Linked DNA regions of Homo sapiens: region 1 is linked to region 2. Evidence: fine-mapped expression QTL. A gene starts in region 2. The other region holds a variant in brackets. All regions are shown on one strand. Distances are from middle to middle.

Region 1 (5,000 bases), 390 kb after region 2:
GGTAAGAGGCAGTTGACGTGTGGATGGTTGAATCTGCTTGAAGGCTGTGTGTGGCATTTAAAATCCCCTTTTAAAACCCCGTAACTGATTTATTCCATCTTTAGATGGGAATGGAGGATGTGTCAAACTATCAAACCAACTTTTTTTTTTTTTTTTGAGATGAGTCTTGCTCTGTCGCCCAGGCTGGAGTGCAGTGGTGCAATCTCAGCTCACCGCAAGCTCCACCTCCCGGGTTCAAGCAATTCTCCTACCTCAGCCTCCAGAGTAGCTGGGACTACAGGCGCGTGCCACCACGCCCAGCTAATTTTTTCTATTTTTGGTAGAGATGGGGTTTCACCGTGTTAGCCAGGATGGTCTCAATCTCCTGACCTTGTAATCTGCCTGTCTCAGCCTCCCAAAGTGCTGGGATTACAGGCGTGAGCCACCGCGCATGGCCCACATCAACATTTTTACAAAGTTACTAACTTTTGTGGCAGTGATGAGTTGAGGTCCAAACATTAGCTTTCAGGTCTGTCTTCATTAAGCTAAAGTGTGTTTTAACCACCAGGCTTTACATAGTAATGACATTTTGCTTGAAAGGGAACTGATCATTTACAGAAAATAGCTTAATAATCAAAAGTGTAAAGAAAGATGACAATCATTTTTGAAAATAACACTTTTAAAAAAATGAACTAGTTCATGAAAGCAGTACCAACATAGAACCATGAAAATGGTTTGTTTTCTGCCTAAATTCCTCTTTGTGCTTATTGCTCAGAGGGTTTGGACATAGTACTAATCAGATTAGGTTGTAGGTTTTTATTTCAGGGATTAAAGGCAGTAGTAGGGTTTGAACCAAGAGTGGCTAACATAAATACCACAGAGGCCCACAGCAAAATCATGGAAGGAACTGACCTGGTGGAGACTGGTAAATTGGAGAGTATTTGCCCCTTCTATGTTTGGGCCACACCTAATTGTGGCTGTGAGGGCATGTGGTCTCAGGGTGGGTTTTCCTATATTGCAAGATAACCTAGGAATGCAAAATTGATGCCAGATACCCTGTTTCAACATTGACAGCTGATTCAGATTTTGAAAACATTGTACAAGCTGAAAAGAAACATCTGCAGACTTGATTTGGCCCTTGAACCTACAGCATGTGACTTTGGGTACATACTTTGGGTAACCTTGGTGAGGGGCTGAGTCTGTGTTGATCGACTTGCTGTTCCCCACCAATGGAAAAGGTTCATGTCTTGATCAGTAGTCAATCACATTGACCATTTGTCCAGATTAGCTTGCCATACATGAACAAGATAGAAGTAAGTTGGTAGAGTTATCAATTAGGAAACCCAGTACAGAGTCTATTATAATTTAGATTGTACCTCATGATGAAGGCTAACTCAACAAACCCATCAGAACAGACACTGGAACAAAATGACATTTCTAAATACCATCCAGCTCTGTCTTCATAGGCTTCAGTGAGGTAAATCAGGCAGGCCTTTGCCCATGTTATAGAATTGGAAAGAACCTCAGAGTGGTGGTCACTTGTCAGAGGTTGGGCACACCTGTGAGGTGGTGGGGAGAAATGACAGACATCCCAGCAGCTACACATGCTGGCTGCACGTCTCTTGCCAAATGCCAGGAGGTAATTTTTTAGGGTCCCTCCTTAGGGAAAGGGGCTGGAAGTTTTATTATTGCTGTTACTACTGCTCGTGAACTCATTTCAGCCTTAGAAGTTCTTGGCTTGTAGTTTTTGTTGTACTCATGAAAATGCTCCCCCATATATATGATCATTCTCGCTTACTATAACATCCTTGCTTACTAAATGAGTTAACAGGGCTTTATGGTGTGTATCGTGAAACACACGTGCATTAAAGACCCTCTGGAAGGTATTAGCTTTTCACACTTTCACAACAAAAGCTTCACACTTGTGGTTATTAAGCTATTTTCTCTAACCAGTTCCCTTTCAAGCAAAATGCATACATTGGTCTCTGTAGGTGATGGGTTAATGCATGGAAATAGTTTCTCCTTCCCTGGAACTGGGAATAGTGGGTGAGATAGTGTATTTTTTAATGTAAAGACAGGCACAAATGCTTTTTTTGTTGATAAATACTATTTTACAAGCTAATTATAAGTTAAGCACTGTTACTTGAGATGAAATATACAGGGCTTCAAAGATCATAATCTAAATAATTATGCACAGCTAATGGTTATACCTGTGAAGTAAAGTAGTGGATCCTGAGGTGTAATTTTATAGTATTAGCTGCATTTCAGTAGATGGTGTGATGAAGAGTTTAATGCATAGGATTAAATGAGAAGTTACGAGGAGTTTGTTTAAAGTTAATGTACCGAGGTAAGTTTTCAGTGTTAAGTTTTTGGGAGATTTGTTTTGGGAGAGGATGAGTTGGGGTTGGGGGAGGAAAGGACTTAGCCAGATGTGAGTTTCTTAAATTGAAGCATAAAATTTACAATTTATGTAGTCCATAATTTTCTCTGGACATTCTACAGTCTTAGTTCATGCCTGAAGACCACTGAAATAATGCTGAGTTGATAAGTGGTTCTCTTGACTTTGTTTAGTATTCTTTACTCAACCCTATCCATGAAGTTCTTCAATGAAGCTTTTGATAATTTATTGCAAAATACATTTTCCACAAAGAAGTCATTATGATTGGTTTGAACTAGTGGAACACAAATGTGAGGTTATAAAGAGGTTCGCCTTAGCCAGGGGCTCCTTTAGCTGCAAAGCAGTTTTTTGCTCAGCAACTTGGGGTAGAGATCAGTGTGTCTTGAAGTTTTGTTTTGCAAAACTTTGTTCTAATGAGAAAGTCAAGTCTTAGGAGGAATGTATAGTAGTTGAGTGTTTGTATTAACACTGTTTTCATATTTTC[CT/C]TTTATGTCTCTGATTTTTCTGAAGACAAGTTCAAGGAATATATTTCTCTGTGGGGCAACAGATACAGTTTTTTCACTTTTCCTCAATTTTAGTCTCCTTACACTCTGGGAGGATTAACTTGACAAATGATACCTTAGTGAATAACTGATTATTTTTATCAAAATCACTCACATGTGTTGGTTTACTGAGTGCCTTTTTGGATGAGTGTTTTATGCCATATGTGTTTTTAATGGAAATTAAAGTGTAGTCAGTACACTAAAGTGTAGTCAGTACAATTGGAAATAAGAGTTGAGAAAAGTCAGGATATGGAGGAATGCTCCCTAGTGTCATGTTAGTAAATGTCTTAAATTTTATACTTGTTCCCTGGCACATTGGAATTCACAGATGGGAGTTAATGGCTTTCTTTTTTTTTTTTTTTTTTTCCTCAGCGTCTTGTGGGTACTTCTCTTATAGCTGGTACTTGTCTGACCCCTCCTTTAGTTTGTGAGCTCCCTGGGCGGGGAATAATGGCCTGCAGATGCTAGCGAGTGCCTGACAAAGAGGAGAAGCCCAGGAGATGTTGAGAGTCAGTCCAGCTCTGCCTGTTAGCCTTTCAGACAAATAAAGTTGAAGAAGGCAGGTAGCAAGAAAAAGATCCTGACCTCTGCTCTGCCAAAGTGTTTTTAATTACCTGGATCTAGCTGTAAGGTTTGCCACGTAGTGGTGACAGCTGAGGTCTAGCTCAGCACTACTCAGCAGGGAAGCCACACATGCATTAAGCACTTGACATAGGACTAGTCTGAACTGAGTTGTGCTGTCATTATTGATACACACTGGATTTTGAGGAGACAAAAAAGAATGCAAAATAGTTTAATTGTTTTCATATGGGTTACATGTTGAAATGGTGTTTTAAATATATAGGTTAAATAAAATATAAACTTGTATTGCAGTTAAACACAAAGCGTAAAATTTACCATCTGAACCATTTATTTCTAAGTGTACTGTTCAGTAGTGTTAAGTGCACTTATTTTGTTGTGCGGCCAATCTCCAGAACTTCTTCACCTTGCAAAACAGAAATTCTGTACTCATTAAACAACTCCCCATTTCCCCCTCCCCCCAGCTTCTGACAACCACCATTCTATTTTCTGTCTATTAATTTGACAACTTCAGATACCTTATATAAGTGAAATTTATATAGTATTTGCTCTTCCATGACAGGCTTATTTCACTTAGCGTAATGTCGTCAGGGTTCATTTATCTTGCAACATGTCAGAATTTCCTTCCTTTTTAAGGCTGAAGGTTGTTCCAGTGTGTGTATATCACATACTTCATTTATCCATTCATCCATCAGGAGATACTTGGGTTGCTTCCACTTTTTGGCTATTGTGAGTAGTGCTGCTATGAACATGGGTATGCAAATATCTTTTGGGGGATTCTGCTTTGAATTTTTTTGGATATATACTTGGAAGTGGAATTGCTGGATCATATGGTAATTCTATTTTTAATTTTTTGGGGAACCATCATGCTGTTCTCCATAGAGGCTGTGCCATTTTACATTCCCACCAACAGGGCACAAGGGTTCCAGTTTCTCCACATACTTACCAACACTTTTTTTTTTTTTTTTTTAACAGTAGTCATCCTAGAGGATATAGGTGATCTTTCACTGTGCTTTGGATTTATATTTACTGGCTTAGATTTGTATGGCCACCACCATAGTCAAGATACAGAACAACTCAACCACAAGGATTTCTCATGATACCTTTTTATAGCCACAGCCACCTCTCTCCCTCTTCCTTGAGCATTTTGTCATATGGTCATTGGTGATTAAATAAAATGTATTTTAATATTGACTTTCTCTGTTTCTTTCTACCTTTTTAAACATGGCTACTAGAAAAATGCACAATTAGATTTGTGGCTGGTGTTCTGTTTCATCTAAACAGGCTGGCCTCACAGAGGAGCTGGAGTGTGCAGTGCTGCTCTAGCAAGCCAGGCTTGACTCTTCCCACTCAGGGCACATCACTTCCATGAAGCTTACTCCTTGGGTTGTTTGGTTGACTTAGGAGAATGGAAGTGATTAGCAGAATCTTGTAAGCATTTTAAACATTAAATGAGCATTGTAAACAGCGGCATTCTTCAGGCAAATACAGTTTTGTTTTAC
Region 2 (5,524 bases):
CTCTTCATAAAAGGGACCATTTTCAATTTTGGTCAACAACAATGCTTTGGTCGACAGCATCCTCCTTGCCCCTCCCAGCCTCTAAGCCAATGTACCTATTTTAGTTTTTTATTTAATCAGCAACATTCTTTTAGTATCTTCTATGATTGGCTACGTAACAAATGACCCTCAAAAAAAATCTTAGTGGTTGGCCGGGTGCGGTGGCTCATGCCTGTAAACCCAGCACTTCGGGAGGTCGAGGTGGGTGGATCACAATCACCTGAGGTCAGGAGTTTGAGACCAGCCTGGCCAACATGGTGAAACCGTGTCTCCACTAAAAATACAAAAAATTGCCAGGCTTGGTGGCGGGCACCTGTAATCCCAGCTACTCAGGAGGCTGAGACAGGAGAATCGCTTGAACCCAGGAGGCAGAGGTTGCAGTGAGCCAAGATCATGCCATTGCACTCCAGCCTGGGCAACAAGAGCAAAACTCCACGTCAAGAAACAACAACAACAACAACAAAAATCTTAGTGGCTTCTAAGAACAGAGGCCTTTCTTTTTTCTCACTCAAGCAAACACTCACTTGGAAGTTAACTTAGTAACCTATCTTTTCAGTTTATAGGTCTCCGGATCAAGAGGAGCCACATCCTGACTTGATGCAAGGACCACTCTGTATCCCCCAGGGGCCTCAGACTTGATGTTGTGGAGGTGTGGGGCTTTGGCTGCTTCCCTGGAAGGATGGAGAGTATATTTTGCCTGTGGAAGGGAGAGTGTGACCAGAAGGGCAGATTGAATAGTCACTAGCTCTGCTTACAGATGATTTTGGGTGTTGACCTCCTGGGCATGTCCAGGGTGGTACCTCCCTTCCCCCATCGAGACAGGAGTGAGCTGCTTTGTCCAGTGGATTGTGAGTAGAAGTTATGTGTGTCTCTTCCAGCTGGAAGCTTTAAAAGCCAGTGTGGCCACACAATCATGGCTGTTCTGTCAGCCAGGACCTGGACCGAGGGGACATGGAACAGAACCCCCAGGTAGCATGAGTGAGAAATAAACTCTTGTCTTTTTAGGCCCTAAGATTTGAGGAAGTGTATGTGAAGTCGTTTCGGGGTTGTTTGTTACCACTACACTATTTTGGCTGATATAGAAGGAAATACTCCTCTTCTGCTTTGCACAGGGTGGTGCTTGGAGCTGCAGCATCCATCTTACAACTGGTAGAAGACAAGTTAAAAAAAAAAAGGTAACGATTACATATAGAGAAAGGATGGCGGATGGTGGAGCAGAAAGATGCAAAGGACCTGGGTCCCCAGGGTAGAGCCATCAAATTCACCCCTGGGGCTTTCCTACCACCAAGCTTCCTGTGATGTGAGAAAACAAAGCCCCTTTTATCATGGATGACTGGGTATTATTACTCGCAGCTGCACAGGTGTGGTAGACAGAGGAATGACTCGCCAAAGGTGCTCATGTTTTAATCCCTAGTACCGGAGAGTGTGTTTCTGATATGGCAAAATGGACATTGCTGGTGTGATTAAAGTATGGATCTTGTGGTGGGAAGATTATTCCCATTGACCATGGATTATTCCCATGGGTCCCATGTAAACAAGTCCAAGGGAGGCAAGAAGGTCAAAGTCAGTAGAAGATGGAACGATGAAAGCAGAGCTTGAAGTGATGCATTTTGAAGACAGACGAAGGGGCCAGGAGCTAAGAAATGCAGGCAGCCTCTAGGAGCTAGTAAAGACAAGGAAATGCATTTTTCCCTGGAGCTGTGAGAAGGAACCCAGCTCTGCCAACACCTTGATTTTAACCCTGTAAGTCCTATTTTGGACTTCTGACTTCCAGAAATGTAAGAGAATAAATTGGTGCTATCTTAAGCCACTCACTTTGTGGGAATTTGTTACTGGAAACGAATACAGATGGCATCCACTAACCTCACGACAGCAGACCACACCATCATCTCCCCAGCAAAGTAGCCTCTGGAAGGGAACGGCTAACATTTCCTTGAGTATTTAAAAGGAGAATCAACAAGGTATATGAGAATTAGGGAGCAGAAAGGAAGGAACATTTTCCACTTAGGTTATAACTCATTTTCCTCCAGCCACAACAAAAAAAGGAGTGTCCTGGGAAATGAGTATCGTGTTCCGGTCGATCACCTCGTCATGAATGCAGCTTCCAGCTACCCTGGACTGCAGTGCTGTAGACCTGGGACGCCTTTAGATTACCGTGATATTAGAGTTCACAGTAATGCCCAGTGCGGGGAAGAGGTGAGATACAGCTGAGGAGGGGCCAGAGCTGGAGCCAGGCTATCTTGGGTCGTGGGGGTCAGGCAAAGTGGCTGGCCGGGAGATCTGCTGAGTGGGTCAGCCGGTCAGTCCTGAGCAGCCGGGCCTCTGGTGCCCAGGTCCACGTGACTGGCACCCTTTCTAGGGGTCTAGTACTTGTTTCTTACGGCTCACAAATCTTGAGGGACAGTTGATAACTGGAGGGTAGAGTTTTCGCTTCCTCGGAAGGGCAAGGGGAGGCCACCGTAGAAGCGCCCGCTCGCGCCGGACCTCCCGCCCGGGAAGCCAGGGCAGGGCGGGGCCGGGGAGGGAGGGGAGAGGAAGGTGAGGAGGGAGGAGACGGGCCGGGAGGGGTGGAGAGGGAGAGGGCGTGCGCCTGGGGCCTCACCTGCTGGGAGCTGGAGGAGGCGCGGAGCGAAGCCGGCCCTGCCAGCCACGCGGAGAAGCAGAGGCAGGTGAGCGCGATGCAGCCGGCGCCGGGTCTGGGGCTCGGGGACTCCTCCCTGCACCGCTACCTGGACGGCGACTTCTGGAGCCTCAAGAACGAGCTGCGCGGACTCCTCGGCGGCGCCCGCTCTTCCGGCAAAGGTACCGCGCTGCGGCCGTCGCCCCTGCCCGCGCCCCCGAAGCCGCCGAGCGTGTCCCCTCGGTCCCCGGAGCGTCGCTGCGGACAACGCCCTGGCGAGGGCGAGGTGGGGTGTGCGCCGCGCCTGAGAGGCGGGTCCCTGCCTCGCCGCAGGTGACGGGCTCCCCTCCCCAGGTGTGTGGGCGCAGCCGGCCGCCGCCGACCTCTTCGGCCCCCTGAGAGGTGCCCTCTCCTCCCGAGCTCCCTCCCCCACGAAGAGTCGGGTGCAGGGCTGGGCCCCGCGGTGACAGGCGCGGTGTCTACGAAGACCGTGTGGCTGGAAGATCGGCCTTGCTGGTTTGTTGAACCTGTTTCTTGAGTCCCCGCCCCGCGATGTCCCACCCTTGGTGGGGAGAAGGGGACAGAAAACCGCGATGGGATGGGCGCACAGGGATGGAGTGGCCCTGTCCAGGGCGTGTCTGGGCGTCGGGGTGGGACAGGCTTACAGGACCCCCTCGGAGTGCAGGTGTGCGGAATGGGCAGCTTCAGCGGGGCGGTTTGGTTATAAGAAGAACTCAGGTCCTCGATGTCATCCGATGCCAGGACAGCCCTGAGAAGCAGGCAGAGGGTTGAGTGCTTGAGCTGCACTGGAGATAGAGAGATGGTTCAGTCACCGGACAGTCAGGACCAGAACTCGGCATTCGTGTCTCCTGTGGGCTCTCTTTCTCATACCCATTTCAAGCAGTCTGAAAAGCCCAGTTGGAGGCATGCTTTGGAGTTCTAGCTTAAGAAAGGCCCTATTAAAAATGTCAGTATGTGCCCGTGGAGGATTAATTGGTTAGCCATGCCCACTTAGCCCTCGTTTAATTTATTTTGCGGAAATGAGAGGGAAGGAGATGGCTTGAGTGAACGTCAGGCTGTCCTTGGAGAATCTGGGGTTCCTGCACTGAGGTTACCTAGTGGGGAGTTGGGGGCGTTTGAAAGTTGAAAAGTGAGAAGTGTGGGATGGTGGGTATATCCATCAGTGTCTCGCCGACTTCTCTTTCCCTCTCTCTCATACATAGTTCTTTAAGTTATGGTTCTCAAAGTGTGGTACAGGGAGCCCTGGGGGGACCCAAGAGCATTTCAGGCGGTTCATGAGTACAAACTGTTTTTATAGTAATACAAAAAAAGTTATTAGCTTTTTCACTCTCATTCTCTCACTAATGTACAGTGGCAGTTTCCAGAGACCACATGATGTGTAGTATTCCAGCAGAAAAAATATAGAAGCAGACATGAGAATACAGCTGCTTTCTATTAAGACAGACAGTAAAGGGATTTGTAAAAATATAGAACGATGCTACTCTTCTTGCTAACTTTTTTTGTTTTGGAAAATAGTTATTTTCATAAAATACACTAATAGATTTATTAGTTATTTTCAAATGAATTAATAAACATTTGAAAACTTTTCTGTTTTAATTTCTAATACGGGAAATATCAGTGGATATAACCCACCCAAATAAAAGCTCTTTGGGGACCTCATAATTTTTTTTTTTTGAGACGGAGTCTGACTCTGTTGTCCAGGCTGGAGTGCTGTGGTGTGATCTCAGCTCACTGCAACCTCCACCTCCTGGGTTCAAGCGATTCTCCTGTCTCAGCCTCCGGAGTAGCTGAGATTACAGGCACCCACCACCACGCCTGGCTAATTTTTTGTATTTTTAGTAGAGATGGGGTTTCACCGTGTTGGCCAGGCTGGTCTTGAACTTCTGACCTCAAGCGATCCGCCTGCCTCGGTCTCCCAAAGTGCTGGGACCTCATAATTCTTAACAGTGCAAAGAGTTCCTAAAATCAATGTTTGTGAACGGCTGCTTTAAGTCATACTGAGTTCAGTCGCATCTGATTAGACACACATCCCCTCCTATATTCCTCAGTCTTTTCAGTTTGTTCCTGGGCTATCACCTCTTTGTCTTTCAGTTTAGATAACTGCAGTTTAAAAGACGGAACAAAATTGTAATAACCAAACTACTGATTTGAGGCAAGCAGAAGGGACTTCCTTGTGAATTCCATAGGGACAGAGGAAAGGCATGCCTGGATAAGGGGTCCAGTGTGGCAGTTTATTTCCTGTGTGACCATTGTCCTGGATTTTTTTTTCCCCCTTATTGACTTACATTTGTTCATCTACAGAATGCAGATAATATCAATGCTGCTGTGTTATGAAGCTTGAATGAAAAACTGTTGCGTGGGCATGGAGTAAACACTGGTTGTGGTGGGATACCAAAACACACTTGCACGCAAAGGGAAAAGCAAAAATCCCATTACCCTGACAAACACTTTTCCATTCTTTCCAGTTCTTGTTTATTTACTTTATAGTTCAGAGTTGTAGTAATGGCATGAACAACATTTCATATTTTTTCCCCAAATGGTTAAAGATTCTGATATCTATCTATTTGAAAGTTCATATTGTACTATCAGATTTTACCTTAGCCCATGTTAGAAGATGGCGATCTTGATTTCTGGATGTTTTAACATTCTCCTAATGTAAAATGTTATAGAACATTAGGAGATGAGAAATAAAACTTCCTCCTCTCTGAGGCAATGCCAGATCTCCTGTGGCTTGTCCCCACCTTACCCCAAACAGGTCTTTGCAGTTAAAGTAGGTGTAGGGGAGAGGGTTGTGGCAGCGTAGTGGTGAGTGCTGTGTGTACATAGTGAGAAGTTTGTACAGGG

Direction of the effects. Alleles are on the strand shown, and positions count from the first base shown. SD is a standard deviation of normalised expression in the study named.
In carriers of allele C in region 1, the expression in stomach of the gene that starts at base 2,640 in region 2 tends to be lower than with CT alone (moderate effect, 0.44 SD a copy in GTEx).

What was found. PIP is the estimated chance that this variant, and not a neighbour inherited with it, causes the effect. A credible set is the group of variants that fine-mapping cannot tell apart.
Region 1: its variant is the best candidate, but not a certain one, in a credible set for the expression of ACOXL in stomach (GTEx, PIP 0.60).

What each region holds. Positions count from the first base shown.
Region 1 is chr2:111,124,154-111,129,153 of GRCh38, forward strand. The region is part of intron 2 of BCL2L11 (BCL2 like 11); the gene reads left to right. Among named protein-coding and RNA genes, the nearest start is that of BCL2L11, 5.7 kb to the left of the region's middle. The variant CT/C (reference allele first, on the strand shown) is at 2,862.
Region 2 is chr2:110,729,934-110,735,457 of GRCh38, forward strand. ACOXL (acyl-CoA oxidase like) reads left to right here and starts at 2,640. Exons shown (of 18, transcript NM_001142807.4): 1 at 2,640-2,841. LOC124906064 (a long non-coding RNA gene) reads right to left here and starts at 2,492. Exons shown (of 3, transcript XR_007087181.1): 1 at 2,421-2,492; 2 at 1,903-1,971; 3 at 1,428-1,702.